3 separate regions of the Homo sapiens genome follow, and regions 2 and 3 are each linked to region 1. Evidence: fine-mapped expression QTL. A gene starts in region 1. Each other region holds a variant in brackets. All regions are shown on one strand. Distances are between the middles of the regions.

The links. PIP is the estimated chance that this variant, and not a neighbour inherited with it, causes the effect. A credible set is the group of variants that fine-mapping cannot tell apart.
Region 2: its variant is the best candidate, but not a certain one, in a credible set for the expression of DBF4B in subcutaneous fat (GTEx, PIP 0.72).
Region 3: its variant is the best candidate, but not a certain one, in a credible set for the expression of DBF4B in coronary artery (GTEx, PIP 0.53).

The regions. Positions count from the first base shown.
Region 1 is chr17:44,702,988-44,712,859 of GRCh38, forward strand. DBF4B (DBF4B-CDC7 kinase regulatory subunit) reads left to right here and starts at 5,678. Exons shown (of 14, transcript NM_145663.3): 1 at 5,678-5,852; 2 at 6,317-6,379. The coding sequence starts at 5,834. RefSeq lists enhancers at 5,484-5,998, 5,999-6,512.
Region 2 is chr17:44,738,496-44,748,367 of GRCh38, forward strand. DBF4B (DBF4B-CDC7 kinase regulatory subunit) reads left to right here. Exons shown (of 14, transcript NM_145663.3): 10 at 2,841-2,957; 11 at 8,588-8,696; 12 at 8,896-9,020; 13 at 9,846-9,872. LOC107985044 (a long non-coding RNA gene) reads right to left here and starts at 2,412. Exons shown (of 3, transcript XR_001752906.1): 1 at 1,868-2,412. The variant G/A (reference allele first, on the strand shown) is at 2,069.
Region 3 is chr17:44,752,995-44,762,866 of GRCh38, forward strand. It overlaps ADAM11 (ADAM metallopeptidase domain 11), which reads left to right and starts at 5,994. Exons shown (of 27, transcript NM_002390.6): 1 at 5,994-6,266; 2 at 6,728-6,903. The coding sequence starts at 6,206. RefSeq lists enhancers at 66-566, 5,635-6,186. The variant G/A (reference allele first, on the strand shown) is at 3,763.

The sequences.
Region 1 (9,872 bases):
TTATTTTCTCTTTCTTACTTCCTTATTTTCTTTTTCTTTCTTTCTTTTTTTTTTTTTTTCTTTTTAAGCAACAGAGTCTTGCTGTGTTGCCCAGGCTGGTCTCGAACTCCTGGTCTCAAACAGTCTGCCTGCCTCGGCCTCCCAAAGTGCTGGGGTTACAGGCATAAGCTACCACTCCTGGCCTAAATTTAACTTTTAGATTTGGGGGTACATGTGCAAGTTTGTCACAAGGGTATATTGTGCAATGCTGCAATTTGGGCTTGTCGGTGGGGGGTGGGCAGGGTGGGCTGGGGCAGAGTCTCCCTCTGTTGCCCAGACTGGACTGCAGTGGGGCAATCACAGCTCACTGCAGCCTTGACCTCCTGGGCTCAAGCGACCCTCTCACCTCAGCCTCTCCAATAGCTGGGACCACAGGTGCATACCTAATGCTCAGCTAATTTTTTATTTTATTTATTGTAGAGAAAGGTTCTCCCTATGTTGCCCAGGCTGGTCTCAAACCCCTGGGCTCAAGTGATCCTCGGGCCTTGGTGTCCCAAGTGTTGGGATTACAGGCATCAGCCACCACACCTGGCCTGGGCTTCGAGTGATCCCATCACCCAGATAGTGAACATATTACCCACCTTCCTCTCTCCAGCCTTCCCTCCTTTTGGAGTCCCCAGTGTCTATTGTTCTCATCTTTATGTCCATGTGTATCCAGGGTTTAGATCCCACTTAAAAGTGAGAACATGCAATATTTGGTTTTCTGTTTCTGTGCTAATTTGCTTAGGAGAATGGCCTCCAGCTACACTCACATTGCTACAAAAGACATGATGTTTTTTTTTTTTTTGAGATTGAGTTTTGCTCTTGCTGCCCAGGCTGGAGTGCAATGGCAAGATCTCAGCTCACCGCAACCTCTGACTTCCAGGTTCAAGCTATTCTCCTGCCTCACCCTCCCGAGTAGATGGGATTACAGGCATGCGCCACCACACCCGGCTAATTTTGTATTTTTAGTAGAGATGGGGTTTCTCCATGTTGGTCAGGCTGGTCTCGAACTTCCAACCTCAAGTGATCCGCCCACTTCGGCCTCCCAAAGTACTGGGATTACAGGCGTGAGCCACTGCCCCCAGCAATTTCATTATTTTTTATGGCTGTATAGTATCCCATGGTGTATATGTACCACATTTACTTTATCCAATCCACCATTCACGGGGTACCTAGGTTGTTTCTATGTCTTTGCTACTGTGAATAGTGTGGTAATAAACATAGTGCAGGTGTCCTTTTGGTAGAATGGTTTATTTTCCTTTGGGTATATACCAAGTAATGGGATTGCTGGGTCACATGATAGTTCTATTTTTAGTTCTTTGAGAAATCACACTGCTTTCCACAGGGGCTGAACTAATTTACATTCTCACCAACAGTATATAAGCATTACCTTTTCTCCATAGACTGGCCAACATTTATTATCTTTTGGCTTTTTAATAGTAGCCATTCTGACTGGTATGAGATGGTATCTCATTGTGGTTTTAATTTACATTTCTCTGATGATCAATGATATTAAGCATTTTTTCATGTTTGTTGCCACTTGTATGTCTTTTTTTAAGATATGTCTGCTCATGTTTTTGCCTTTTTTTTTTTTTTTTTTTTTGAGACAAGGTCTTGGTCTGTCGTTCAGGCTGGAGTGCAGTGGCATGATCTTGGCTCACTGCAGACTTGACCTTCTGGCCCAGGTGATCCTCCTACCTCAGCCTCCCAAGTAGCTGGGGCTGCAGGCATATGCCACCAGGCCTAGCTAATTTAAAAAAATTTTTATATAGATGGGCCTCCCTATTTTGCCCAGGCTGACCTTGAACTCCTGAGCTCAAGTAAAGCCTCCTACCTTGGCCTCCCAAAGTGTTGAGATTACAGGCATGAGCCCCTGCATCTGGCCTTTGCCCACTTTTTAATTAGGTTTTTTTGTTGTCGTTGATTTATTTAAGTTCCTTATAGATTCTGGATATTAGTCCTTTGTCAGATGCATAGTTTGCAAATATGTTCTCCCATTCTGTAGGTTGTTTACTTCATTGATAGTTTCTTTTGCTGTGCTTTGGAAGCTCTTTAGTTTAATTAGGTGCCAGTTGTCAATTTTTTTTTTTTTTGTCGTAATTGCTTTTGAGGACTCAGGCTGATATCTAGACAGTATTTCCTAGGTTTTGTTCCAGAATTTTTAGTTTGATGTCTTACATTTAAGTCTTTCATCCACCTTGAGTTAATTTTTGTATATGGTAAGAGGTAGGGGTCCAGTTTCATTCTTCTGCATATGGTTAACCAGTTTTCCCAGCATCATTTATTGAACAGGGAGTCCTTTCCCCATTACTCATAGGTGTACAGCTTTATTTTTGGGTTCTTTATTCTGTTCCATTGGTCTATGTGTCTATTTTTATGCCACTACCATGCTGTTTTGGTTACTGTAGCCTTGTTTAGTTTGAAGTCAGGTAATGTAATGCCTCTGGCTTTGTTCTTTTAGCTTAGGATTGCTTTGGCGATTCAGGCTCTTTTTTTCATTCTATATGCATTTTAGAATAGTTTTTTTTTCTGATTCTGTGAAAAATTACATTGGTAATTTGATAGGAATAGCACTGAATCTGTAGATTGTTTTGGGCAGTATGGACATTCTAATGATATTGACTCTTCCAATCCATGATCATGGAATGTTTTTCTATTCGTTTGTGTCTTTTATTATTTCTTTCAGCAGCAGTGTTTTATAGTTCTTGTAGAGATCTTTCACCTCCTTGGTGAGATGTATTCCTAGGGATTGTTTTGTGTGTGTGGCTCTTTTTTTTTTAATGAGACAGAGTCTCGTTCTGTTGCCCAGGCTGGAGTGCAGTGGGGTGATCTCGTCTTACTGCAAGCTCTGCCTCCCGGGTTCATGCCATTCTCCTGCCTCAGCCTCCCAAGTAACTGGGACTACAGGCACCAGCCACCACACCTGGCTAATTTTTTGTATTTTTAGTAGAGACGGGGTTTCACCATGTTAGCCAGGATGGTCTCGATCTCCTGACCTCGTGATCTGCCCGCCTCGGCCTCCCAAAGTACTGGGATTACAGGTGTGAGCCACCATGCCCGGCTGGCGCTTTTTTTTTTTTTTTTTTTGACAGAGTCTCGTCACCCAGGCTGGAATGCAGTGGTGTGAGCTTGGCTCACTGCAATCTTCGCCTCCTGGGCTCAAGTGATCCTTGTGCCTCAGCCACCTGAATAGCTGGGATTACAGTTGCACACCATCACTCCAGGCTAATTTTTGTATTTTTAGTGGAGATGGGGTTTCACCATGTTGGCCAGGCTGGTCTCGAACTCCTGGCCTCAAGTGATCCACCCTCCTCAGCCTCCCAAAGTGCTGGGATTACAGGTGTGAGCCAACATGCCCAGCCTGTGTGTGTGGCTGTTGTACATGAGATCACATTCTTGATTTGGCTCTCAGCTTGAACGTTATTGGTGTATAGAAATGCTACTGATTTTTGTGTGTTGACTTTTTTTTAATCCTAAAATTTTATTAAAGTAATTTATTGGGTCTAGGAGCCTTTTGGTGGAGTCCTCATGGTTTTCTAGCTATAGAATCATATCATCAGTAAGCAGAGATAATTTGATTTTCTCTTTACCTATTTGGATGCCTTTTGTTTCTTTTTCTTGCTGATTGCTCTGGCTAGGATTCCCTAAATACATTTATATTTTAAAGTATTTTCATTTTTTGGAGTTGCATAGTGTTGCACAGTATGACTACACCATAATTTATTTAACCTACTGCCCGTTGTTAATCAATATTTTCGTTGCTTTTGATCTTTTGGTATTGCAAACAATGCTGAGGCAGATACCTTTATTATACAAATTCTGTCACACATGTGAAAAAAGAACATGCTGAACCATCTTGCCTCTTAAAGTTTCTGCTTGGAAGTGATGTCACTTTTTTCTTTTTTCATGAGCCAAAGCAAGTCATATGGCCAAGGCTTCGTTCGTTCATCAGGGCTGAGATGTATAAGCTTCCTCAGGGAGGAGTCCCACTGGAAGAGATACCAAGTTTATGTACTGTATATACCTCTACCAGTGTTTAAAAAATATCACCCTGGGCCAGGCGCGGTGGCTCACACCTGTAATCTCAGCACTTTGGGAGGCCGAGGCGGATGAATCACCTGAGGTCAGGAGTTCGAGACCAGCCTGGCCAACCTGGTGAAACCCCGACTCTACTAAAATACAAAAATTAGCCGGGCATGGTGGCAGGCACCTGTAATCCCAGCTACTCGGGAGGCTGAGGCAGGAGAATGGCCTGAACCCGGGAGGCAAAGGTTGCAGTGAGCCAAGATTGCGCCACTGCACTCCAGCCTGGGCGACAGAGCGAGACTCCCTCTCAATAAAAAAATAAATAAATATAAAAACTATCACTCTGGTTGCTGAATGGAGAATGGATTATACTGGGGAGAGATAGGAAGCTACTCGGGAGTAGAAGTGAAGAATTGACCGCAGTACTTTAGGCAAGAAATGATAGCAGCTTGAACTAGGGTGGTGGTGGTCTGATTCCAGATGTACTTTGGAGGCAGAGTTAGTAGGATTTTTTTCTTGGAGTGGGGATGGGCACAAGGGAAAGTACTGAAAGACAACTTCTAGGTTTTTGGTTTGAGCAACTGGGTGAATGATTGTGACATTTGAGTAAACAGTAACATTTTACTGAGAGGGGAAGACCTGGGGGGAGAACAGGTGGTTTTTTGACAGGGGCAGCGAAACAAATGTTCTGTTTTGAATGTGTTCAGCCTGAGGTGCCTATTAGACATCCAAATTGAAATAGCCAGTAGGCACTTGAATATGTGAGTCTGGAGATCAGACAGGTCAGAGCTACAGAAAATCTGAAGGTGTGGCAGAGCTGAATTGTAAAGCTGTGGAGCTGGATGAGATCTCCTAGGGAGATAAGGGAGAGGGATAAGGGCTAAAGCGTTGGCATACTCCAAAATATATAGGTGAACAGTGGCTTTGGATCCAGCAAAGGGGACTGAGGAGGAACCATTGAGATAGGGAAAAAAACGGTAGAGTGCTGAGTCATGGAAGCAAAAAGAAGAAAGTATTTCAAAGAAGGAATAGTCCATCTATAAGTTGGATATGATAAGGATAGTATTTCAGACTGTGGAAATCACAGTTGACCTGGATAAGTACAGTTTTTGTGGGGAGGTCCCCAGCTCTCCACTGAATGATCTCTTATTAGATCAAATTTGATCTCTAATTAGCAGTCTAATTAGATGGGTTGAAGAAAAGATGGGAAGTGAGGGATAAAGATACGTCTTTTGAGAAGTTTTGTTGGGCAGGTAATAATTGAAGAACGGGAGGGGGACAAAAATGTGAAGATGAAATGATGTGTAAGTGAAATCTTTATGTAAACTGCAAATGCTCTGCAAGTGTTAGGCTTATTTTGTTATTTAGTATTCAAACTTCTAGGAATTTCAATGCAGCTCAGTGTGAAGAATCACTAAAAAGCGACCACTAGTCCTCAACTTGAGGGCCATTAAGGGGCAAAGCCGTCTAGCCAGTGAAGAGCCAAGAAATGAAGAGACGGTTTGAGAAGACGTAGGCGGTGGGGGAACGGAAAGAGGAATCGCGAAACTAATATTGTCCTTCCAAGGACACCGTAGGGCGGATCTCGCAGCTACGGCGTTCTTTTAGGGGTGGAGCCGGCAGGAAATTTAAACTGAAGCCGCGGCCGAAAACGCCAAGAGATTGATGCTGTAGCTGCCCTGAGATAACCAGGACTGTGGAATCGGGAAGAGCTCATGGAGCTCGCGAATGTAATACGGAGGCCTCTGAGGAAGGAGTACGGAGGCCGAGAAGGAGCCGGCATTTGATGAGCGAACCGGGAAAGGGTACGGATGCCGGGAAGGGGAGAAAGAAAGGCGGAAGGGGTCGTTAATAGCTGAGGCGAGGTGCGGAGTCGTGGAGGGGGCTTAGGAAGTGACCAGCGGGTAGGTGCCGAAGCTGAGGAGGGTATAGGGGCCGGGAAGGAGCCACAGGAGTTGAGGGGACCGAGGAATGAAGGTGGCAGAGGAACGTAGGGGACAACAGCCTGGAGGGATGTATGGAGATTGAGATGGACAGGAGGTGGCCAAGAGGTCACGGCCGTTGACTGAACGGAGTCTGAAAGGAGGCGGAGGGCATGAGGGGCAAGAGCCTGGCGGGAGTCGCGGGATGTAGGTCGGAATGGAGTTGAGTCTTGCTGTTCCCAGGAGTCGCGTTTCTGTGCGCGTTTTGGGAGACAGTAGTGGGCGGGAGGCATGGAAGTTCCAAGGGTTGGTGAAGATGGTTGAGTTGCTGTTATGTCCTTTCTCAGGAGACGATTGCCTCGAGCTGGAGAGTTCCATGGCTGAGAGTAGGCTCCGGGCCCCGGACCTAGGTGGGTAACAGGACAGAACTAGGGACGTGAGGTGAAAATTGCCCCAGGGTCTCTTGGAGAAGACCGAAAAATGTTCCCCCTGTTGGAGTTTTCGATCACTCAGTGTTTTTATGTACTTATTTATTCATTTTATTTATTGGGATGGGGTCTTGCTGTGTTGGCCAAGCTGGTCTCAAACTCCTGGCCTCAAGCAGTTCTCCTGCCTAGGCCTCCCAAAATGCTGGGATTACAGGTGTGAGCCACTTCACCAGGCCCACTTAGTGGTTTTATGTGTGTGTGTGTATGGACGCAGCATCATAGACCGTTTTGGGATTCATGATAAAGGTCAAGTAAGAGTCATATTATGAACAAGATTAACAGACAGATGTGGAGTCAGGATAGAGTGACTTATTAAATATATAAATTAATACATTCATAGTTGTTTACAATAAAATCCTTAAGTTAAACACTGCTACCTAATTAGGTAAGTATTTTAGCACATGGCACTTCCCTCCGTACTGCCCCTTTAGTTAATATCATCTAGTTGGCCGGGCGCGGCTGCTCACGCCTGTAATCCCAGCACTTTGGGAGGCCAAGGCGGGCGGATCACGAGGTCAGGAGATTGAGACCATCCTGGCTAACACAGTGAAACCCCATCTCTACTAAAAATACAAAAAATTAGGCGGGCGTGGTGAGGCGTGCCTGTAGTCCCAGCTACTCAGGAGGCTGAGGCAGGAAAATTGATTGAACCCAGGAGGCGGAGGTTGCAGCGAGCCGAGATTGCGCCACTGCACTCCAACCTGGGCGACCGAGCGAGACTCCGTCTCAAAAAAAAGAAAAAAAAAATACCGTCTACTTTTACTTCTGGATTGTTAACAGATATGCCATCGGCTTGTTGCCTTTTAAACAGTAATCCACTTCATTTACTGAGTTATTCATTCTTCCCATCTCTTGTTGGTTTTTTTTCCCCCTTCTGTTTCTCTGGAGAACTTCAAGAGTGTTTTCAAAAGGAGGCTTTGTGTGATAAACTAAGAATATATTTATTTCAGCCTTGTAGTAAAATTTAAGTCAATTTTTTTTCCTTCAACACATTGAAAAATTACAGTATTTTCTCCTTGTTTTCTTCAGCATTTCTTTTTTATTCTTGCTGCTTTGTAAGTGACCTCCTTTTCTCATTAGATGTTTTAGATTATGTGAACCTATGGATTATATTGATGAAAGAAAAAAATGTTTTATTTTATTTATTTTGAGGTCTTGCACCCAGGCTGGAGTGCAGTGGAGCAATCATGGCTCACTGCAGGTTTGGCCTCACCGGGATCAAGTGATCCTCCCACCTCAGACTCCCAGGTAGCTGGGACTGCAGGCACTCAACACCACGCCCAGCTAATTTTTTTTTGTTGTTTGTTTTGTAGAGACGAGGTTTTGCCATGTTGCCCAGGCCGGTCTTCAACTCCTGGGCTCAAGCGATCACCCTCCTCAGCTTCCCAAAGTGTTGGGATTACAGGAGTGAGCCACTGCACCCAGCCCAATATTTTAGATTATACATTTTTATATTTGTTCTTAAAATTTACTATAAGATGATAATGTGTGGATTTTAGAGGGTTTTTATTTTCGTTTTTATTCCAGTTTGATTTTTTTTTTTTTTTTTTTTTTTTTTTGAGACAGAGTCTCGCTTTGTCGCCCAGGCTGGAGTGCAGTGGCACCATCTCGGCTCACTGCAACCTCTGCCTCCAGAATTCAAGCAATTCTTTTGCCTCAGTCTCCTGAGTAGCTGGGATTACAGGAGCACGCCACCATGCCCGGCTAATTTTTGTATTTTCACTAGAGACAGGGTTCCACCATGTTGGTCAGGCTAGTCTTGAACTCCCGACCTCATGATCCACCTGCTTCAGCCTCCCAAAATACTGGGATTATAGGCGTGAGCCACCACACCTGGCCTCCAGATTGATTCTTTAAATTTTTTTAAATTATTATTTTATTTTAGAGACAAGAACTTGCTCTGTTACCCAGGCTAGAGTACAGTGGCACAATCATAGCTCACTGCAGCCTCAAAGCCCTGGGTGCAAGCAATTCTCCTGCCTCAGTCTCCCAATCTCCTGCCTCAGTCTCCCAAGTAGCTATGTCTTCAGGTGCATGTCTCCACACCTGGCTTCCTGTTTGATTCTTGACATAGCTTAAAAGGCAGGCCATGTGTGGTGGCTCACACTTGTAATCCCAGCACTTTGGGAGGCCAAGGCAGGCGGATCACCTGAGATCAGGAGTTCAAGACCAGCCTGGGCAACGTGGTGAAACCCTGTCTCTACTAAAAATACAAAAAACAGAGCCGGGCGTGGTAGCTGACACCTGTAATCCCAGCACTTTGGGAGGCCGAGGCAGGGGGATCACGAGGTCAGGAGATTGAGACCATGGTGAAACCCCATCTCTACTAAAAATACAAAAAATTAGCCGGGCGTGGTGGCAGGCACCTGTAGTCCCAGCTACTCGGGAGGCTGAGGCAGGAGAATGGCGTGAACCCGGGAGGCGGAGCTTGCAGTGAGCAAAATTGCACCACTGCACTCCAGCCTGGGCGACAGAGCAAGACTCTGTCTCAAAAAAAAAAAAAATTAGCTGGCGTGGTGGCAGGCTCCTATAATCCCAGCTACTTGGGAGGCTGAAGCAGGAGAATTGCTTGAACCCAGGAGGTGGAGGTTGCAGTGAGCCGAGACTGTGCCATTGCACTCCAGCCTGGGCAACAAGAATGAAACTCCATCTCAAAAAAGAAAAAAAAAAAAAAGCCAAAGTTTCTCACAAAAAACAGGAGGCATGAGAGTTAATCCCCTTTCAGGCTGTCTGATTCCCACTTCCTAAGAAACAGCCATTTACAGCTTTTAACTATTTCTTCTAGAAGCTACCACCTTATTTCTGTAATAATATGCTCATACTGTTTTAATTGTTTTCCATTTTGAATTATGTCTTCTTTTTTTTTTTTTTTTTTTTTTTGAGACGGTCTCACTCTCATCAGGCTGGAGTGCAGTGGCACAATCATCTCGGCTCACTGCAACCTCTGCCTCCTGGGTTCAAGCGATTCTCCTGCCTCAGCCTCCCAAGTAGCTGGGACTACAGGCACGTGCCACCATGACTGGCTAATTTTTTGTCTTTTTAGTAGAGATGGGGTTTCACTGTGTTAGCTAGGATGGTCTTGATCTCCTGGTCTCGTGATCCACCCGTCTCAGACTCCCAAAGTGCTGGGATTACAGGCATGAGCCACCACGCCCAGCCAAATTTTTTGTATTTTTAGTAGAGATGGGGTTTTACCATGTTAGCCAGGATGGTCTCGATTGCCTGACCTCACGATCTGCCCTCCTCAGCCTCCCAAAGTGCTGGGATTACAGGTGTGAGCCACCACACCCGGCCTGTCTTCTTTTTTTTTTATAGAGATGGGGTCTCACTGTGTTGCCCAGGCTGGTCTTGAACTCTTGGGCTCAAGTGATCTGCCCACCTCGGCCTCCCAAAGTGATGGAATTACAGGCGTGAG
Region 2 (9,872 bases), 36 kb after region 1:
AGGGGCCTCAAGCTAATGTGAAGACATGGAGCCCCTTAACCCTGCACCTTCATCTTCCTGAGAAGCCACTTTCTCCCATTGTCATGGAGAAGTCTCATGCAAACCAGGAGGAGCCTCAGAGTGGCATTATACAGTGAATAGTCCTCTTGGAGATGAGTCAGAGGTTAATGATCCTGTGTGTGAATTACCTCCATTTAATACTCTGCTCTATGAGCTCATGGTGTCCCATGCAGGCTCATTATTGCAACTCCTTTCCCCTTGGGTGTATGCTGACATTTCATGTCAAATCATTACCCAGTCACAGTGCTAGTATAGTCCAAGACATCATCTTGGCTGAAATTAGGGTGCTAGGGGTGGTACTGGGGATTCCCTTGTCAGGCCACCCTGTACTTGATAAAGCCTTTCTGTTTCACTTTGAAAATCGTTTTCTGGCTCATGTTACCTCCTGACAGCCCTGGGTGAAAAAAGCATGAGGAGAGCCCATCTCTTCCTAATGGGGAAAACTGAGGTCAGAGAAAGGAAGGGACTTGTGTACAGCCACCTTGCTAATAAATTGCAGCCTAAGGCTAGAATCCAGGTGTCCTGCCTACCCTGTCTTGTGTCTTCTCTGTCCACCATTATGATCTCCTCTTCCCTCGGAGCAGGAGGGTCCCATGACAATGTTAACCTAATGAGCTATTAGCAGCCATGTTGGTTATCACTGAATCTTCAGTAAGTACAAGATCGAAAGTGTATGTGAATCTATAATTATCTCAAAATTTAAATTTTTGTTTTTAATATTTTTTCCAAAAAGGCATTTTCAGACTAAATAAATTTTTTAAAGGAAATAAGTCCATGTGTATCCAGCAGAGACTACTGAGGACAGAATTGTCTGTGTGCCTCAGACAGGGAAGGGCAGGGCAGCTGAGACCAGCCCTAGGAGCCTGGCATGCCTGCCCATCCTCCAGACAAGCCCAGGGTCACTTCTCAGCACCTGCAGACAGTGCTGCGCTGGCTTTGGTGGCCCAAAGGCAAGTGGAGAGAACAATGGGATGGTACAGAGGTGCTGTCTTCCAGTTCCAGTGGGATGGATTGCGTGTTCATCCCCAGCCCCTTCACACCTATTTAAATGTAGGTAATCATGACACATATGCAACGGCTGAAAGGCACTGTTACAGCCTCAGTATCTGCACTGCACATGGCAGGCACAGGTATATCACTGTCACCAGAGAGGGGTACACATATTCCTGGCATTATAGGCCAGAGAGGAGATCCAACTGGAGCTGAGATTTCTTGTGAAATTTTTTTTTTTTTGAGACGGAGTCTCACTCCATCACCTAGGCTGGAGTGCGGTGGCACAATCTCGGCTCACTGCAACCCCTGCCTCCCAGATTCAAGCGATTCTTCTGCCTCCCGAGTAGCTGGGACTAAAGGTGTTCACCACCACGCCCAGCTAATTTTTGTATTTTTTGTAGAGACGGGGTTTGGCCATGTTGGCCTGGCTGATCACAAACTGGCCTCAGGTGATCCACCTGCCTTGGCCTCCCAAAGTGCTGGAATTACAGGTGGGAGCCACAGTGCCCAGCCTCTTGTGATTTTTTTTTTATGTGCTGTTTTGAAGCAGGTGCATTCAAAGCCTATTAGGCCTATTAGCCTGCCCATCCTCAAGTTTCAAGCCCCCTAAGCAGAAACAATATCATTGAAGAAGAAAGAAACATGCCAGGGTTGTGAGGGGTACCCCCTTCTCCTTAAGGGTCCAAGAAGACTTATTTGTTAATTCACTGCTGAGCTACAGTACTCTTACCCTGCTCCCTGAGAACCCCTGGCTTGCACTGTTTCCCCCAGAACATGGACCATTGCAACCAAACATGGTGCACCCGGCAGTTACCTCACTTGGCAGGGTTTGCGAAGTATACACAGATCACTTCTGTCTCTGCAAATCTCTTAAATGTTTGCAACTTGAGGCACACTGCCAGAACCACTCAGTCCAGGTCTGACTATCCAGAACCTTCACTGTGCCTGTCTTCTCCTTTCAGAACCCAGCCCTCAGATAGTTCTAAGGACCAGCAAGAACACTTCACAGAACAGG[G/A]AAATAACTGTTCTGGTTTAAACATTCTTCCATTTAGAATCTGCCAGGCTAGAGTCCTCAAAGATTGTTGTAGGGTCAAGAAACAAATGGGAAGGTGGGGAAAAGTAGATCAGGAGTCTGGAGATGTGGCTTCTGATCTGACCTTGGCTGCTTAACTATTTGTGAGCCCTTGAGCAAGTCACAGAACCTCTTGGGCTTCATTTCCTTAGATATAAAATAGGATAAGCCCAGAGGGTGCTTATAGGATTCCAGGGAGGCAGTGGTATGAGTTTGAAAAGTAGACAGGGAGGGGCCGGGCGTGGTGGCTCACGCCTGTAATCCCAGCACTTTGGGAGGCTGAGGTGGGCAGATCACAAGGTCAGGAGATCGAGACCATCCTGGCTAACACAGTGAAACCCCGTCTCTACTAAAAATACAAAAAATTAGCCGGCCATGGTGGCGGACGCCTGTAGTCCCAGCTACTCGGGAGGCTGAGGCAGGAGAATGGTGTGAACCTGGGAGGCGGAGCTTGCAGTGAGCCGAGATCGCGCCACTGCACTCCAGCCTGGGCGACAGCGAGACTCTGTCTCAAAAAAAAAAAAGAAAAGTAGACAGGGAGAACATATGTATTAATTTAACCTAGAAAGGCTGATGAGTTTTGTTATAGAATTTAAAAGATGTGGAGGTGAGAGTCCACTTTATCAGGGCTGGAATTCTAGGGCATTGGGCGAGGCCCCCTCCTCAGCCTTTACCTTCCCCATTGTAGTCAAAGTGGAAGTTTTCTCTGTTGCAGGAAGTTTCGTCCTTTCCATCATCAGTTTAAATCCTTTCCTGAAATTTCTTTTCTTGGACCCAAAGATGCAAGTCCCTTTGAGGCCCCGACGACCCTGGGCAGCATGCACCATACCAGGTGGGTCTTTCTGGTTCCTGAGTACCAAGGGCTGGTTACAGGCCAAAGTCCTCCCCATCGGGGGCCTGCTGGTCAGATTTGGGAATGGCCATGTGTTTGCTCCTTAGGCAAAGTCTATTCTGGGAACGTAGCCCAGAGAAGAGAGACTAGGAGCGTTCATCCATTTTATTTTGTGTTCTTCATCCGTACTGAAGAATTTAACTTGAAGAAGAAAGGGAGGTGCCAGGGTTGTGAAGGGCACCCCCTTCTCCTTAAGGGTCGAAGAAGACCTATTTGTTAATTCACTGCTGAGATACAGCACTCTTACCCTGTCCGCCCAGAACCCCTGGCCTGCACTGTTTCCCCCAGAGCATGGACCATTGCAACCAGACATGGTGCACCCAGCAGTTACCTCACTCGGCAGGGTTTACCGAGTATACACAGAAGACAATAGACCGCTTTCTCAAACTCATATCTATAGACCACCATTATCAGAGTCCCCTGGGGTCTCTTTAATTAAAAATACAAGTTCTAGCTGGGCACAGTGGCTGATGCCTGTAATCTCAGCACTTTGAGATGCCAAAGTGGGAGGATCACATGAGGCCAGGAGTTTGAGACCAACTTGGGCACACAAACATAGCAAGACTCTGCCTCTACAAAAAATAAAAATAAAAATGTAAAAAATTATGAGTCAGGCAGAGTGGCTCATGCCCGTAATTCCAGCACTTTGGGAGGCTAAGGGGGCGGATCACTTCAGGTCAGGAGTTTGAGACAAGCCTGGCCAATATGGTGAAACCCCTTCTCTACTAAAAATGCAACAAAAAAAAAATTAGCCAGGCATTGTGGTGCACACCTGTAATCCCAGCTACTTGGGAGGCTGAGGCAGGAGAATGGCTTGAACCCGGCAGGCGGAGGTTGTAGTGAGCTGAGATTGCGCCACTGTACTTCAGCCTGGGTGATAGAGCGAGACTCCTTCTCAAAAAAAAAAAAAAAAAAAAAATTAGTCAAGCGTGATGACAAGTGCCTGTAGTCCCACTTACTCAGATGGCTAAGGCAGGACAATCATTTGAGCCCAGGAGTTCAAGGTTGCAGTAAGCTATGATTGTGCCACTGCACTCCAGCCTGGGTGACAGAGTGAAACCCTGATGCAGGTTCCTAAACTCCACCCCATATCTATAGAATCAAAATATCTGATGATGGAGCCCCAAAAGCTGCATTTTACAAGCTCTCATGTGATTTCAGTGAATATCAAAGTTTAAACTGGTTGGGCCAAACATCAGGAATAACTAAGGGGCGGGGCGGGGGAGAAGATCGCTGCATTACGTGGCTCATGGCTTGTGGGCTTGTTAATGTTTCTACTCTGCAGATGTTTGAGAATTTGAACCCTCATTAACCAAAGTAGAGAAGGAATTCAGCTCAGGTGATGGGTGAGATGCCTTCTCAGACCCTTTCTAACCTCTGGGCTGTGGGGTTATAGACCAGGAGAGAACAGAGCAGACTCTCAGCCCTGGAGTTCCTGGGGCCAAGGAGGCTCTGTGGTTTCCATCAGCTGACAAAGGCTGTGGGTAAGAAAATAGTACAAATAGGAGGGAAAAAATTAAGGGAATGTGGCAGTAGATGAAATGGGAGCAAAGAGAGAAAGAGGTGAGGTTAAGTCCCAATACAAGGGATACCAGGGAGAGCCAGTCAGAAGGTGGCCCAGGCTTGGCGCTGGCAGTGATGCTAGGCCTGGGATGGCCTTGGGATCACAGAGGAGCTAAGAGGCTGTAAAGGGAAGATGAAGCAATGAAGCTTTGGTATCTGCATGTGAGGCGCCTAGGCAGGGAGTTGGCCCTGGTGGGACATCAAAGTTCCAGGCACGTGTGTATGTGGAAAATATGTGTAGGAAGAAGTGTTTAAATTTTTACATTTTTGAAATCATTATTATATTTTAAAGTTTAAAAATTTTTAAATTTAAAAAGTTTAAAATTTGTGTTACAAATGGTTTAATGTGAAAAGTCTATATTCCACACCCAGCCTCCAGTTCTATCCCCTCACTGGTGCAACCTTCCTCCCAGGGGTAGAGGCTGGAGGAGATCCGAGTGGTGCCTCACCCCTGCCAAATGGAGAGTGCAGCCTGGGGCAGCATGAAAAGAAAAAGCAAGTAACATCCAGCATAGTCAATACTGTATGATTCTTTTTTTTTTTTTTTTTTTTTGAGAATGAGTCCCACACTGTTGCCTAGGCAGGAGTGCAGTGGCGTGATCTCTGCTCACTGCAACCTCCGCCTCCCAGGTTCACGCGATTCTCCTCCCTCAGCCTCCTGAGTGGTTGGGATTACAGTGCACACCACCTCGCCCGGCTAATTGTTTGTGTTTTTAGTACAGATGGGGTTTCACTATGTTGGCCAACTGGTCTTGAACTCCTGACCTCGTGATCCACCCACCTCAGCCTCCCAAAATGCTGGGATTACAGGTGTGGGCCACCACACCCAGCCTATATGATTCTTTATGTAAGAAGAGGGAACGAAGGATACACATGTACCTATATATCCATGAACTATCTCTGGAGATAGACCACACCTGTAATCCCAGCACTTTGGGAGGCCAAGGGGGAAGGATCACTTTGAGGCCAGGAGTTCGAGACCAGCCTGGGCAACATAATGAGACCACCCCCCCCCCCCCCCGCCCATCTCTATTTTTATATTTTTAAAAAATCTGGCCAGACACAGTGGCTTATACTTGTAATCCTAGCACTTTGGAAGACTGAGGCAGGTGGATCACTTGAGCTCACGAGTTTGAGACCAGCCTGAGCAACATGGTGAAACCCCACCTCTATTAAAAATACAAAAATTAGCCAGGCATGGTGGTGCAAGCCTGTAGTCTAAGCTACTCAGGAGGCTGAGGCTGGGGAATTGCTTAAGCATGGGAAGCAGAGGTTGCAGTGAGCCAAGGTGGTGAATCTGCACAACAGCCTGGGTGACAGAGTAGACCCTGTCTCAAAAAAAAAAAAAAAATTGCATTCCCTTTTATGGCTGCAGGGTATCCATTATTCCATTGTATGGAATGTATTTACTGTATTTTATTTAACCAGTCTGTTATTCATGGATGCTTAGATTAGCTCCAATGAAAATCATGTTCAGAGTAAATTTGCAATTGCTCATTTGTGGAATAAATTCCTAAAGGTAGAAATATTGGGTTAAAAGATATATGCATTTATAATTTTGATAAATTCAGCCAAATGGCTTTTCATGGAGCGGATACCAACTTATATGTTTACCTACACTGCATGAGAGAGGCTGTTTCCCATCCCCTTGCCTCATGCTGTGACTGGCAGATATGCTGACCTCCAGTATAACAGATTAAAAACTGTATCTCAGTATAATTATAATTTTTGTTTTTTCTTACTATGAATGAGGCTAAGTAAGTTTGCATATGTTTGGTTGTTTGAATCTCTTTTTATGTGAACCTTCTTTTTATACTTTGCCCATTTTTTATTTGGTTATTGATCACTTTAATGATTTGTAAGGAGCCCTTCTCATATTAGAAAAATGAGCTCTTTGTTATTAGTTGTAAATATTTTCTTTTCTCTGGTCACTGCAACCTCCACCTCCCAGGCTCAGGCAATCCTCCCATCTCAGCCTCCCAAGTAACTGGGAGTACAGGTGTGCACCACCACACCTGGCTAATTTTTATATTTTTTGTAGAGGTGGGGTTTCACCATGTTGCCCAGGCTGGTCTCGAACTCCTGCGCCCAAGTGATCCTCCCACCTTGACCTCCCAAAGTGCAGGGATTATAAGTGTGAGCCACTGTACCTGGCAGTTGTAAATAAATCAATATATATATTTTTTTCCTAAGCCTCCCTGAGCAGAGAAGTTGTAAATACTTTTAAAAGACAAGAAAACCCCAAGTTTGTGGTTTGTCTTTTAACTCTGCTATATTAGTCCATTTTCATACTGCTATACAGACCTGTCTGAGACTGGGTAATTTGTAAAGGAAAGAGGTTTAATAGACTCACAGTTCAGCATGGCTGGGGAGGCCTCAGGAAACTTACAATCATGATGGAAGGCAAAGGGGAAGCAAGGCACCTTCTCCACAAGGTGGCAGGAGGGATAAGTGCTGAGTGAAGGGGGAAGAGCCCCTTACAAAAGCATCACATCTCATGAGAACTGTCACGAGAATAGCATGGGGGAAACCACCTGATTCAGTTATCTCCACCTGGTCTCTCCATTGACACTTGGGGATTATAGGGATTACAATTCAATATGAGATTTGGGTGGGGACACAAAGCCTAACCATATCATTTGCTAATGATTCTTTGCCATGCATACATATTTTAAAGTTGTATATAGCTGAATTTATGAGTTTTTCTGTATATCTTCTGGGGTTTGTGTCATACTTAGGAAGTCTTTAAAAGGAGTGTTTTGGACTTGTCGAGTTTGCTGGACAGCCAGATAGAAATGCCCTTTGGTTGTTAGAAATATGGGGCTGATATTCAGATAAGAATTCAGGCTTGGCCGGATGTGGTGACTCAGTCCTGTAATCCCAGCATTTTGGGAGGCTGAGGTGGGCAGATCACCTGAGGTCGGGAGTTTGAGACCAGCCTGGGCAACATGGTGAAACCCTGTCTCTACTAAAAATACAAAAAAAAAAAAAAAAAAAAGAAAGAAAATTAGCCAGGCGTGGTGGTGTGTTCCTGTAATCCCAGCTATTCGGGAGGCTGAGACAAGAGAATCACTTGAACCCAGGAGGTGGAGGTTGCAGTGAGCCGAAATCATGCTGCTGCACTCCAGCCTGGGTGACAGAGCGATACTCCATCTCAAAAAAAAAAAAAAAAAAAGAAGTCAGGTTTGAGGAAGGTTTGAAAATCCTAGCGGACAGTGAGGACAGCTGTGAGAGATCCAAGGCAGCATGAGAGAAGGGACAGACTGAACCAAGCTGGGGAGACATTCAGGGTGGAAAAGAAGAGCAGTCCCTTCACTGTGGTTGAGACCTTTTCCCTTTCATCTTTCAGGTCTCATGAATGTGGGTGTAGGTTTGAGCACAGAGTTGGAATTCCTACAAGGGATTCTTGCTGCTGCCGTCACCATCCCATCTTCACCTGTCGTTTAAGAGAAGGACGGAGATGGCTGGCGCGGTGGCTCACACCTGTAATCCCAGCACTTTGGGAGGCCAAGGCAGGTGGATCACCTGAGGTCAGGAGTTTGAGACCAACCTGGCCAACATGGTGAAACCCCGTCTCTACTGAAAATACAAAAATGAGTTGAGCATTGTGGCGGGCGCCTGTAATCCCAGCTACTCTGGAGGCTAAGGCAGGAGAATGGCTTGAGCCCAGGAGGTGAAGATTGCAGTGAGCCAAGATCGCACCACTGCACTCCAGCCTGGGTGACTAAGCTAGACTCTCTCAAAAAAAAAAAAAAAAGAGAGAGAGGACAGAGATAAGACAGGCTGCCCACAGGGAGGTCTCCAGACGTCTTCTTCCTTGTTCCCCTCTTGCCATTCTTAGATGATTGGTACCAAGCTCAGGGAAGGCCTGCCTGCCGGTGCCTGCACAGCCCCTTGGCCATCTTGGTCCTTCCCCTCCCTGACCTAGGCTCCAGGCTCTAAGTAGTGGCTCCTCCCCCCAAGGGCCCCAGCAGTAACCACTTTGCCGCACTATGTACCCTCCCCAGAGAATCCAAGGATGGAGAGCCAAGCCCACGATCAGCTGCCCACACCATGCCCAGGAGGAAGAAAGGCTACTGCGAGTGCTGTCAGGAGGCCTTCGAGGAGCTCCATGTGGTGAGCCCCTTCCCCATTAAGCAGCTGCTCCCAGAGTGCCCTGAGGGAGCCTGCTCACTGGGGATGAGTCCTTCCTATGCGATCTCTATGCTGCTATGGCTGTCCTCCAGGGCCAGAGCATGGGCTGGGAGGTCAGCTTCCGTGTCCCCCTCCCCCCAGGCCTCATCTAATGCCCTGTGCTCCTCTCCCCCGCCGGCAGCATCTTCAGAGTGCCCAGCACCGGAGCTTTGCCCTGGAAGCCCATCTATATGCAGAAGTGGACAGGATCATTGCTCAGCTCAGCCACAGCTTTGCAGACATCCCTTTCCAGGCTGGCCTCCCCAGGTGAGTGCCACGCTGGCAGGCACAACTGTGTCTGCTCTCTCCTCTGTTGCCCTCTGGGTGGGAAGAGACCCTCAGGTTGGTGGCTGCTGGGACCAGACTGTGATGTTTTCCTCTTTTCTCACCTTCCTTTCCCCTTATCCTCAGTCCTGTTTGTTTTGGGGCTGGCCAAAAAAAATAAAAAGACCTCCATTTGTGGCTTCACTTGATGAAGACTAGACCCAGACTACACTGTGGCTCCCTTCCAACTCCACAGGCTTTGATGTGGTTGATAAGCAGTTCTGGCCAGGGAGCAGGGGGTTAGTGCTTGGGCCTCTCCTAGATAGGTGAAAAGCAAAGTCTTTCCCCTCTGTAGAAGTCACCCCCAGAAAGAAGGACTGCATGGGGTTTGGTGGGAATTCCAGGGCCCTCTGAGCCCTGCTTCCCCTTGCTGCCAGCAAGGCAGACCCTCTCCCACCTGGGGCTGTGGCTTCACCTCTCACCCCAAATCTCCACCTCAAGCTCAACTTGCACAGCCAGGCACTGCGCTGCTTTCTTCAGCTGCCAAAGGGCACAGCCTCCTCTGTGAAGTCATGAAATGGAATAGCCTCTAACCTATTCCTCTGGCCGGCCCCAACCACAGGCTGCAGAGCCAAGAGAAGTGCACACAGTGCTGGTTGCTGCGGCAGGTTAGACCCAAACAGGAGGACTTTCACACAGGGCCTCAGAGAAGGCAGCTCTCTCGGCACATGAACCGCCAGCTGTGGCAGCTCTCCCTGTGCCCTCAGCCCTGGCCCAGGCCTGCTGTGAAGTTGAAACCTGCAGCTCACAGTGTTTCTGTCCCAACAGGTGGTCAGGTTCCCCAGCTTCTGATTG
Region 3 (9,872 bases), 50 kb after region 1:
CCCCTGTCCCAGGCCCCCTCCCAAGGGCCCTCTCCTGAGCTCCAGGAGGATCCCTTTTGTGGAAAAGAAGTGGCACTTGGGCCCTTATGGGTGTGACTGTATTTGTGCCCCACAGACCTCCCAAAGGATGAGTGTGCCTGGGATCCTGGTGCCCCAGGTGCCCCCAACTCCTCCCTTGGTGAAGCCTGAGAGCTTCAGAGATTAAAAGAGGGGCCACTTGGACGCCTGAGAGGGAGGAGCATGAGGTTTCCCGGGAGAGCTATGCAGATGAGAAGAACGGTCCTTGGACCCTGGGCTGGCATCTAAGAGGAAGCAGGATGAACTTCCTGTCCAAATGCTAGGCACTTCCCCTGCTGCCACCCCTCCACATCACGACATCAGGCACAGGTTCTCTCTGTGCTGGGTAGAGAGAGGACCCCGAGGACCCCAAGCCATAGAGAGGCCTGGGGTCCTGGGCAAGGGCCAGGGAGCCGGTTTGCTCCTCGGCGCCTTGGACGGTGCGAGCCCAGGGTGACTGAGCCCCTTTCATGTGCCAGACGCTGCTCCAAGCATGGGCAGCTCAGCCATCATCCCCGAGAGGAGCACTGTGAGGGGGGTGGTTTTCTAACCCCTGTGTCGTGGATGAGGAAACCAAGGCCCAGAGAGGCCAGCGGGCTTGCTCAAGGTCACACAGCCAGTTTGTGGGGGAGGCAGGATTGGGACCCCAGCCTGGAGACCTGAATCCTGCCCCCTTGACTAGCATGGTCTGTGCTGCAGGACTTAAGGCTGGTCACCAGGCCTGGACGGCCTCCACTGGCAGGAATCACTGCCGGTGGTATCACCCCAGGGCTGGGGGCAACCAGGACCTCTCCCTTACCTGGAGTTGCGGAGACAAGGTCTTGGCCCTGCATCCCCAACTTGGCCCTTATGCAGGAAAATTTGAGAGAACCGGCTAAAGAGCTAGAAGAGCAGCAGAAGGAAGGAGGCTCCGGCCTCCTAGGGAAGGGGCTTCCTAAGGGAGGCCAGAGACCCACCCCTCAGGGCCCCACAGCTCCCTCAGCAAGAGCAACCCCAAGAGTGGCATCAGGGCAGCAGAAATAGTGGCCCCAGCCTCAATGGATGGACCGAAGGAGCCAGCCATAGCTATGAAGTTGAGGTGGGGCCCCCCAGGGAACCCTATGTTTGAGGGGGAGACACAGGCCTGCCCCGATCTAAGCAGAAAACAGCCCTTGCTATCAGGGTCAGGTCTGATGAGGAGGACAAGCCCTGCTCTTCTGAAGTCCCAGTCTGATGAAGGGCCACCAATGAGAAAACAGACAGCCCTGACCTCAGGAGGGACGGTGGGTGAAAGAACGTGAAGCAAGCTTTCTGTGTGGGGATCCCACAGCTCCTAAGAGAGCTGAGGCAAGCATGAGACAGGGGAGGTGGAACCTCAGGGACTGGGGACTGTGATCAAGGGAGAGGCAAGAGGTCTAGCCGAGGCCGGGTGCCAGGGTTCACAGATGTAATCTAATCCCAGCACTTTGGGAGGCTGAGGCTGGAGGATCACTTGAGTTCAAGAGTTCGAGACTGGCCTGGGCAACATAAAAAGACCCCCGTCTCTACAAAAAGAAATTTTGTTAGCCAAGCATCGGCCTCATGCCTGGTAATCCCAGCACTTTGGGAGGCTGCTCTGCCTCCCAGGTTCACCCCATTCTCCTGCCTCAGCCTCCCGAGTAGCTGGGACTACAGGCGCCCACCACCACGCCTGGCTAATTTTTTGTATTTTTAGTTGAGACAGGGTTTCACCGTGTTAGCCAGGATGGTCTCGATCTCCTGACCTCGTGATCCACCCGCCTCAGCATCCCAAAGTGCTGGGATTACAAGCTTGAGCCACCACGCCTGGCCTTGAATGGCTCTTGAGTCCAGGTGTTGAGAACAGCCAGGACAACATGATGAAACCCAATCTCTACAAAAAATACAAAAGTGCTGGGCACGGTGGCTCACACCTGTAATCCCAGCACTTTGGGAGGCCAAGGTGGGCAGATCACTTGAGGTCAGGAGTTCAAGACCAGCCTGGCCAACATGGTGAAACCCCATCTCTACTAAAAATACAAAAATTAGCCAGACATGGTGGAGCACACCTGTAATCCCAGCTACTTGAGAGGCTGAGGCAGGAGAATTGCTGGAACCCGGTGGGAGGAGGAGGTTGCAGTGAGCCGAGGTCATACCATTGCACTCCAGCCTGGGCAACAGAACAAGACTCCGTCTGAAAAAAAAAAAAAAAAAAAAAGCCAAGCTTGGTGACGCCACCTGTAGTCCCTGCTACTCAGGAGGCTGAGGCAGGAGATGACTTGAGCCCAAGAGGTCAAGGTTACAGGAAGCTATGATTGTGCCACTGTTCTCCAGCCTGGGCAACAGAGCGAGACCCTCAAAAAATTAAAAAATAAGGTCTATTGCCTGCAATCCCAGCACTTTGGGAGGCTGAAGCAGGCAGATTGCTTGAGGCCAGGAGTTTGAGAACAGCCTGACCAACATGGCGAAACCCCATCTCTACTAATAATACAAAAATTAGCCAGGCGTGGTGGTGCACACCTGTAATCCCAGCTACTTGGGAGGCTGAGGCAGGAGAGTCACTTGAACCCAGGAGAAGGAGATTGCAGTGAGCCGAGATCATGCCACTGCACTCCAGCCTAAGCAACAGAGTGAGACTCCCATCTCAAAAAAAAAAAAAAAAAAAAAAAAAAAGATCGGCTGGGTGCGGTGGGCTCACGCCTGTAATCCCAGCACTTTAGGAGGCCGAGGTGGGTGGATCACCTGAAGTCAGGAGTTCGAGACCAGCCTGACCAACATGGAGAAACCACATCTCTACTAAAAATACAAAATTAGCTGGGCATGGTGGCACATGTCTGTAATCCCAGCTACTCGGGAGGCTGAGGCAGGAGAATTGCTTGAACCTGGGAGGTGGAGGTTGCGGTGAGCCGAGATCATGCCATTGCAACAAGAGCGAAACTCCAGCTGGGGGTGGTGGCTCACCCTGTAATCCCACCAGCACCCTGGGAGGCCGAGGCGGGTGGATCACGAGGTCAGGAGATCGAGACTATCCTGGCTAACACAGTGAAACCCCGTCTCTACTAAAAACACAAAAAAATTAGCTGGGCATGGTGTTGGGCACCTGTAGTCCCAGCTACTCGGGAGACTGAGGCAGGAGAATGGCATGAACCCGGGAGGCGGAGCTTGCAGTGAGCCGAGATGGCGCCACTGCACTCCAGCCTGGGTGACACAGCGAGACTCCATCTCAAAAAAAAAAAAAGAGCGAAACTCAATCTCAAAAAAAAAAAAAAAGAAAGTTCTAGGCCAGGCATGGTGGCTCACACCTGTAATCCTAGCACTTTGGGAGGCAGGCAGATTGCCTGAATTTAGGAGGTTGAGGACAGCCTGGACAACATGGTGAATTTAGGAGGGTGAGAACAGCCCGGGCAACATGGTGAGATCCCATCTCTACTAAAAATACAAAAAATTAGCCAGGTATGGTGACACATGCCTGTTGTCCTAGCTGCTCGGGAGGCTGAGGCAAGAGAATCACTTGACCCCAGAGGTGGAGGTTGAAGTGAGCCGCGATCTTGCCACTTTACTCCAGCCTGGGTGACAGAGCGAGACTCTCCAAAAGAAAAAAAAAAAATAGTAAGTTCTAGCCGGGTGCGGTGGCTCACGCCTGTAATCTCAGCACTTTGGGAGGCCGAGGCGGGTGGATCACGAGGCCAGGAGATCGAGACCATGCTGGCTAACATGTGAAACCCCGTC[G/A]CTACTAAAAATACAAAAAAAAAAAAAAAATAGCTGGGCGTGGTGGCGAGCACCTGTAGTCCCAACTATTCAGGAGGCTGAGGCAGGAGAATGGCGTGAACCCGGGAGGCGGAGCTTGCAGTGAGCCGAGATCGTGCCACTGCACTCCAGCCTGGGCGACAGAGCCAGACTCTGTCTCAAAAAAAAAAAAAAAAAAAAAGTAAGTTCTAGCCAGATCTGCTGGGAGCCGGGGAACCCAGGAATATAAGTGGCTATGGGGGCCAGGGAGCCATATGACCGAGTCTCCACTGGAACTAGCCCAGGGTGCCACCAGGGAGAGTCACTCTTAGGGCTCATCAGGTCTCCCCAACAGGAAGTCTAGGGTCCCAGGGCCACCGATGTGGTAGGAACATGCCTCTGGTGAAGAGGCCTGGACCACAGATTGGGCTTGCTCTGTGGTCTTGAACATGTTGGAGGACCCAGACTCTCCCAGCCCCGGGCTCGCACTGTGAAATGACAAACCTCACCCAGCCTACTGGGGGGCACTCCTGATCGGGACTTGCTGATGTGGCCCTGGGACATGGGCAGGCTGGAGCAGGACAGCCACCTTCGTGTCTGGGGTGTGTGGTGAGGGTGCATGGGACCAGATATACCAGTCCCCTCTGGTCCCAAATGGAGGGCAGAGATGGAAGTAGGACTAGGGGTGGCTAAGAGGAGTGGGGCCATGGAGTATGGGATGTGCCTTTCACCAGCTGTGTGACTTTGAGAAGCTCACATAACCTCTCAGAGCCTCAGTTTCCCCATCTGTAAAATGGGGAGCACAATCTCTCCCTCTGGGCTCATGATGAGTTTCCAGGAATACCACCTAGTAGGCCCTCATTCCCAGGAGCCTCCTCATGCCTACATCTTGGAGGAGGTTCTCAAGATGTCTCCAGAGCGAAGGAAGAATTGGCTCAGCCTTACTGAGCATCTGGGCCTGGCATGGCAGGTGGTTGGGGGTGGGGGGAGTCACTTGGTTCCCTACATTGATGTCAGCGCCTCCTGGGAAATCGCCTTCTCACCTCTCCTGGGCCTAAAATAGAGCGGGGGGTGGGGGTGTCACAAGCTAGAGGCAGTTCCCTCATCCCCAGCAGAGGCCCTGGGTCCTTGCGGAAGCAGAGGACCCAGGAAGGGGTTTCCTGCCTCCAATCTTGTTCTTCAGCAACCTGTGGTCCCCTAGCATGGGTACCAAAAAGGTCAGGGTGGGGACTCAGCGGCCCACCCACCATGCCCTACCACACCCCACACCATCTCAGGTATCTGGCCTTCAGCACCCCTAGCAGAAGTCTGAGGTCCCAGCCCTGGTATTGGGACCCAACATCCCCAGGAGCTGGGTGGAGGGCACAGCTGGGAATGTAGGTTGGGAGGTCAAGTATTTTGCAGACAGGGCAGCCTAGTCTGACCAGAGAGGGAATGCTGGGGGGCTCCAGAGGTGTCTTCTGCTCCTAAGGATTGGGACTAGCAAGGGAGGGGGAGCCATGGGGCATGCTAGCAGCATATAAGTGACCTGGCTAGTTTATATTTTATCTAGGAGGAAGGACAGGACGCCTGTGAGAGACTCAGGAACCCAGACGGACATGCCAGCCCTTCCTGATGGTTGGAGTGACAGCGATCCCTGAAGCCCTCCTGGAGGCCGGGGCATCTTTGGCGGGGAGAAGGAGCCGATGGGAAGGGGTCTGTACCGCGGGCGTGAGAGGACTCCGCAGTGACACGACCCGTAGCGAAGGTGCAAGAAATCCCAGAGGCGTAGAGCCCGGCGTTCGCCAAGAGCCTTTGCCCACCCCAACCCCAGCTTCCACAGCCTGGGGTCAAGCGGGGCGCTCCAAGCTGGGGCTGGGGCAGCCTCTCTGGGGTACCACGACAGAGGGGCGAACGTGGGCGCCGCAGCCACGCCCCTGCCCCCGGGCCCCAGACAGGCAGTCGCCGGGTCGACCCCGGGGGTACCCCGTCCCCTGCTTCCCTCCCCTACAAATCTACGAGTCCTCGGAGATGCTCAGGCAGAGGTGGCCGAGGAGAGGCCGCGGGATAAGTACGCGGAGCGCCACCGCCCCGCACCTGCCGAGGAGACTTCGAGGTGCGAGGAGGGACCCCGGGGCGGCGCCTCTTTTGTCCTGCCGCGGCGGCGGCCCGGGCCCTGCGGGGCTGGGGGGGCCGGGGGGCGGCGGGAGAGCGGAGGGCGGGCCCTGGGCTCACGTGCTCGCTGCTCAGCTCTTAACCCGGCCCCGCCGCCCCGCCGGGATGGCCGCGGCCGGAGCGCGCTGAGCCCCGGCGCCGTCCCTGCCGCCCCCACCTCTCCGCGACCCCCGCCCGGCCCCGCGCCCCCGCCCCGGCTCCGCAGCTGGCGCCTCCCCACCCCCGTCCCTGCTCCCGCCCTCCCCGCGCCGCTGGCAGCCGCAGCCCCCGGACCGGGAGGAATGAGCGAGCCATGAGGCTGCTGCGGCGCTGGGCGTTCGCGGCTCTGCTGCTGTCGCTGCTCCCCACGCCCGGTGAGTGACCCCCGCCCGGCCCCGGCGCCCCCTCCCTGCCCCCGCCCCGGGATGTGCGGCGCTTGCTGCTGCAGCCACCTTTTCCTGCAGTGCTCGGGGTGACAGCCGGTCCGGAGCGCGGGAGGGTAGGGGAGCGGGAGAGGAGGGAAGGTGCGTCCACCCACCTGTCCCCAGCTGGCCGGGCCCACCGCGTCCCTGCCCCTGCCGCCGACCGGCCAGCTCTGCAGGTCTCTGCGGGTTTGGGCGGATGGGGGGGCAGTCGTGACGGTTGGGCGGGAGTGAAGCTCCTGGCCCCCTCCCCGCGGGCTCTTGCCTCTGCAGGGCAGCCAGATCCTCCCACCCGGATCGCCCTAGGGCTCCAGGGGCCACACCAGAGTGGGGGATGAGGCATGCCCACCCCATTCCCAAGTCTTCTGCCCCAGGGTGGGCAGCTGCCTGCAGCCATGGCCTTGTTTCCCCAGGTCTTGGGACCCAAGGTCCTGCTGGAGCTCTGCGATGGGGGGGCTTACCCCAGCTGGGAGGCCCAGGAGCCCCTGAGGTCACGGAACCCAGCCGTCTGGTTAGGGAGAGCTCCGGGGGAGAGGTCCGAAAGCAGCAGCTGGACACAAGGGTCCGCCAGGAGCCACCAGGGGGCCCGGTGAGTGGGGCTGGGTGGTGAGGCCAGGGGCTGAAGCAGGCCTCAGAGCCCCAGGAAGCCCACGGGGTAACCAGGGTTGGAGTCCCCCTCAGCAGCTGCCCCGCAGGGTCCCCTTCTGTACAGTGGGCTATCCGGTGGGTGCTGGAGCCCACTGGTGGGGAGCACCAGGCCTGCCCAGCCCCAGGGCCCCCTTCCATTATTGTAGGGTCCCCTGCCCTCAGTGTACAGGGACCACTAATGCCTAGGTCTCAGGTCTGCTTTGGGTCAGCCTTCCAATGGCCCCCTGCTCTGCTCTGGCCAAAGCTAGTTGTTCTGTTCAAAACAGGGCTTGGATGGGGCAAGTTGGGGGCAGGGAGAGGCAGCCCAGATTCCAGTCAGGGATTAGGGCTCTCAGGTTCTCACCACAGCCACCTTAGTGGGCTTTCTTGGAACAACTTAGTGCTTGCTCCTGCCTCAGTTTCCACACAGTGCCCAGATAGGCTTGTTGTTCTTCCTGTCCTGGCTGAAGGTGGGGCCTTGGAAAATAACTTGAGGCCCCAAGCCAGCTCTACCTGCCTGCCCACTGTCCCTTTCAGCTGCCAGGCCCCTCCTGCCTCCCAGAGGAAGGTTAGGCATGAAGGAGATTAATTGCAATTAATAATTAATTAATATCATGTGAATAATAATCACCCAGATGGAATATTCATTCAGCACACCCCAGCGCTCCAAGAGCTGGAGCTGAAAGTGAGCCAGGCCAACAGGGCAGCAGAGGGCAGGTTGGCTGGCAAAGGCCCGGCACAAACAGGAGGTATAGGGGGGAGACCCAGAAGAGGGGTACAACTGAGGCCTGGGAAGTTTTGGCAGCGGGGAGTGGTGGGAGGTAAATTGGGCTGGGCAGAGGGAGGAAGGAGGGAAACGGAGGCTAACATTACGGACATCTGTCAGACTGGCATCTGGCCCTGCCTAATGTACTTGGTTAAAAGCCCTTAAGGGAGGGGAGCAGAGGGGGATGCGGGGTGGTGCAGGGGTGGAGAATACTGATGAAATGGATGGAGCAGGAAGGGAGCATGCATAATAGATGGACCATCACTCAGGGCCGTGCAGAGGGGCAGGGGGAGGGGGCTAATGGTCCAAGGCCCGCAGTCACTGGGGGTGGGGTGGGGGGTGGAAGCTGCCTTCAGCAACTGCCCAGGCTCCCTGGGAGGTGTGCAGTCCTAGGGCCGGGGATGGGGTGTCCTGGCCGCTGAGTCTGGCTGTCTTGCCTGGTGTCACTCCCTACCTGTGAACTGTGCACCCCGTGGTTACACTGTGGGGGAACTGATGGTCTGCCCGACTGCTGGGACTCTGGCTTATGCTTTAAGGGATGTGCAGATTGAGTCATGGAGGGATGTCACCGCAGGGAAAGGGGACAGAGTTGAGGAAAAGCCTGGAGTCAGGTAGGGATGAAAAGTCAGGTATTCCAACTGGGCAGGTTGCTCCTTCAGCCTGACCCTTTCCGAACAGAGACAGAGGTGGCAAAGGGTAGGAGGTTCTGGGCTGTGGTGGTGTCTGCAGCTGCGTGGGAAGGTCAGGATGGGTGCAGTTGAACTGCTTGGGTTGGGGGTCTCTGTGTTGTTCTGCAGGTGAGTGAGTGCATGTGAGGTGTGTATGTGATCCACCGATTCCAGATACTTCTGAGGGGTGTCTGAGAGCCTGCGGGGAGGGAATGGAGTTCCATGGATCTGCCGGGCAGTGATTATCTCCAATTTTGGGGTCTCTCTGAGACTGAGACTTCCTAGGGCCCTCATGGCGACCTCCTCAAGGGACTTGTTTGGGGCCCTCTCTTATCTGTGCCTCAGTTTCCCCTGAGGTACCAAAGCTGTGGACTTCTATGGGCCACTCTGCCAAGCTTTGTATGCACTCTACATCACTTATTTCTCACAACTCTGTAAGGCTTGTAACTTTTGTGTGTTTATGTGTGTGTGTGATGGAGTTTTGCTCTTGTTGCCCAGGCTGGAGTGCAATGGCGTGATCTCTGCTCACCCTAACCTCCACCTCCCGGGTTCAAGCAATTCTACTGCCTCAGCCTCCCGAGTAGCTGGGATTACAGACGTGCGCCACCATGCCTGGCTAATTTTTTGTATTTTTAGTAGAGATGGGGTTTCTCCATGTTGCTCAGGCTGGTCTCGAACTTCCGACCTCAGGTGATCTGCCCACCTCGGCCTCCCAAAGTGCTGGGATTACAAGCGTGAGCCACTGCGCCTGGCAGCTTGTAACTTTTGTCAGCCCCATTTTACAGATGAGCAAACTGAGGCTCAGAGGGATGACGTAAATTGCCCAAAGTCAATCAGATCTTAAGCAGTGGAGGTGGGAGTTTTCTCCACACCAGGGCACTTCCCAGTTCTGCCTCCAGGGCTCTCTGGATTTGGGTCCAGGAGGCAGTCTCCCAACTCTGCCCAGAGCAAGGAGACAAAAAGACACATCCAGAATATTTTCCCCAACGGTAAGGAGATATGGCAAACCCTCAATCTCCTGCCTGGCATTTCTCCCTGGGGTTAGAGCGCTTTTGGCCTCAGAGCCATGGGGTCTGATGGTGGATCCAGTGTGGACTTGAGCCCGTGTGTGTCCTAGCCAGAAGTACCCCAGCTGGGCATTGCTTGGTTTTTGCCTTAACTTACTGCCCTGGTTTGGAACTTCAAGCCTAGCCGGTGTGGAGCTGGCAGCAAGATCTCTGGTCATGTGTCGAGTCCAGGGGCACATGCTGGCTGGCAGGGCCTGGGGCGCTGAGCTGCTGTGGCTTTGGGCAGGTCGTTTGACTTTTCTGAGCCCCAGTTTCCTGTTCCCTAAAATCAGGATGGTAACATATCTCAGTCCCACCTACTACCAGGAGGTGGTGATGGGAAAGAGCTTTACGTGCTGAGGATTCCTGGCTTGACAGGGGCAAGGGTGGGGGTGCGACTGGGACAGGGGAAGAGATATAGCGGCCAAGAAGGAATTAGAAGCTGGAGAAA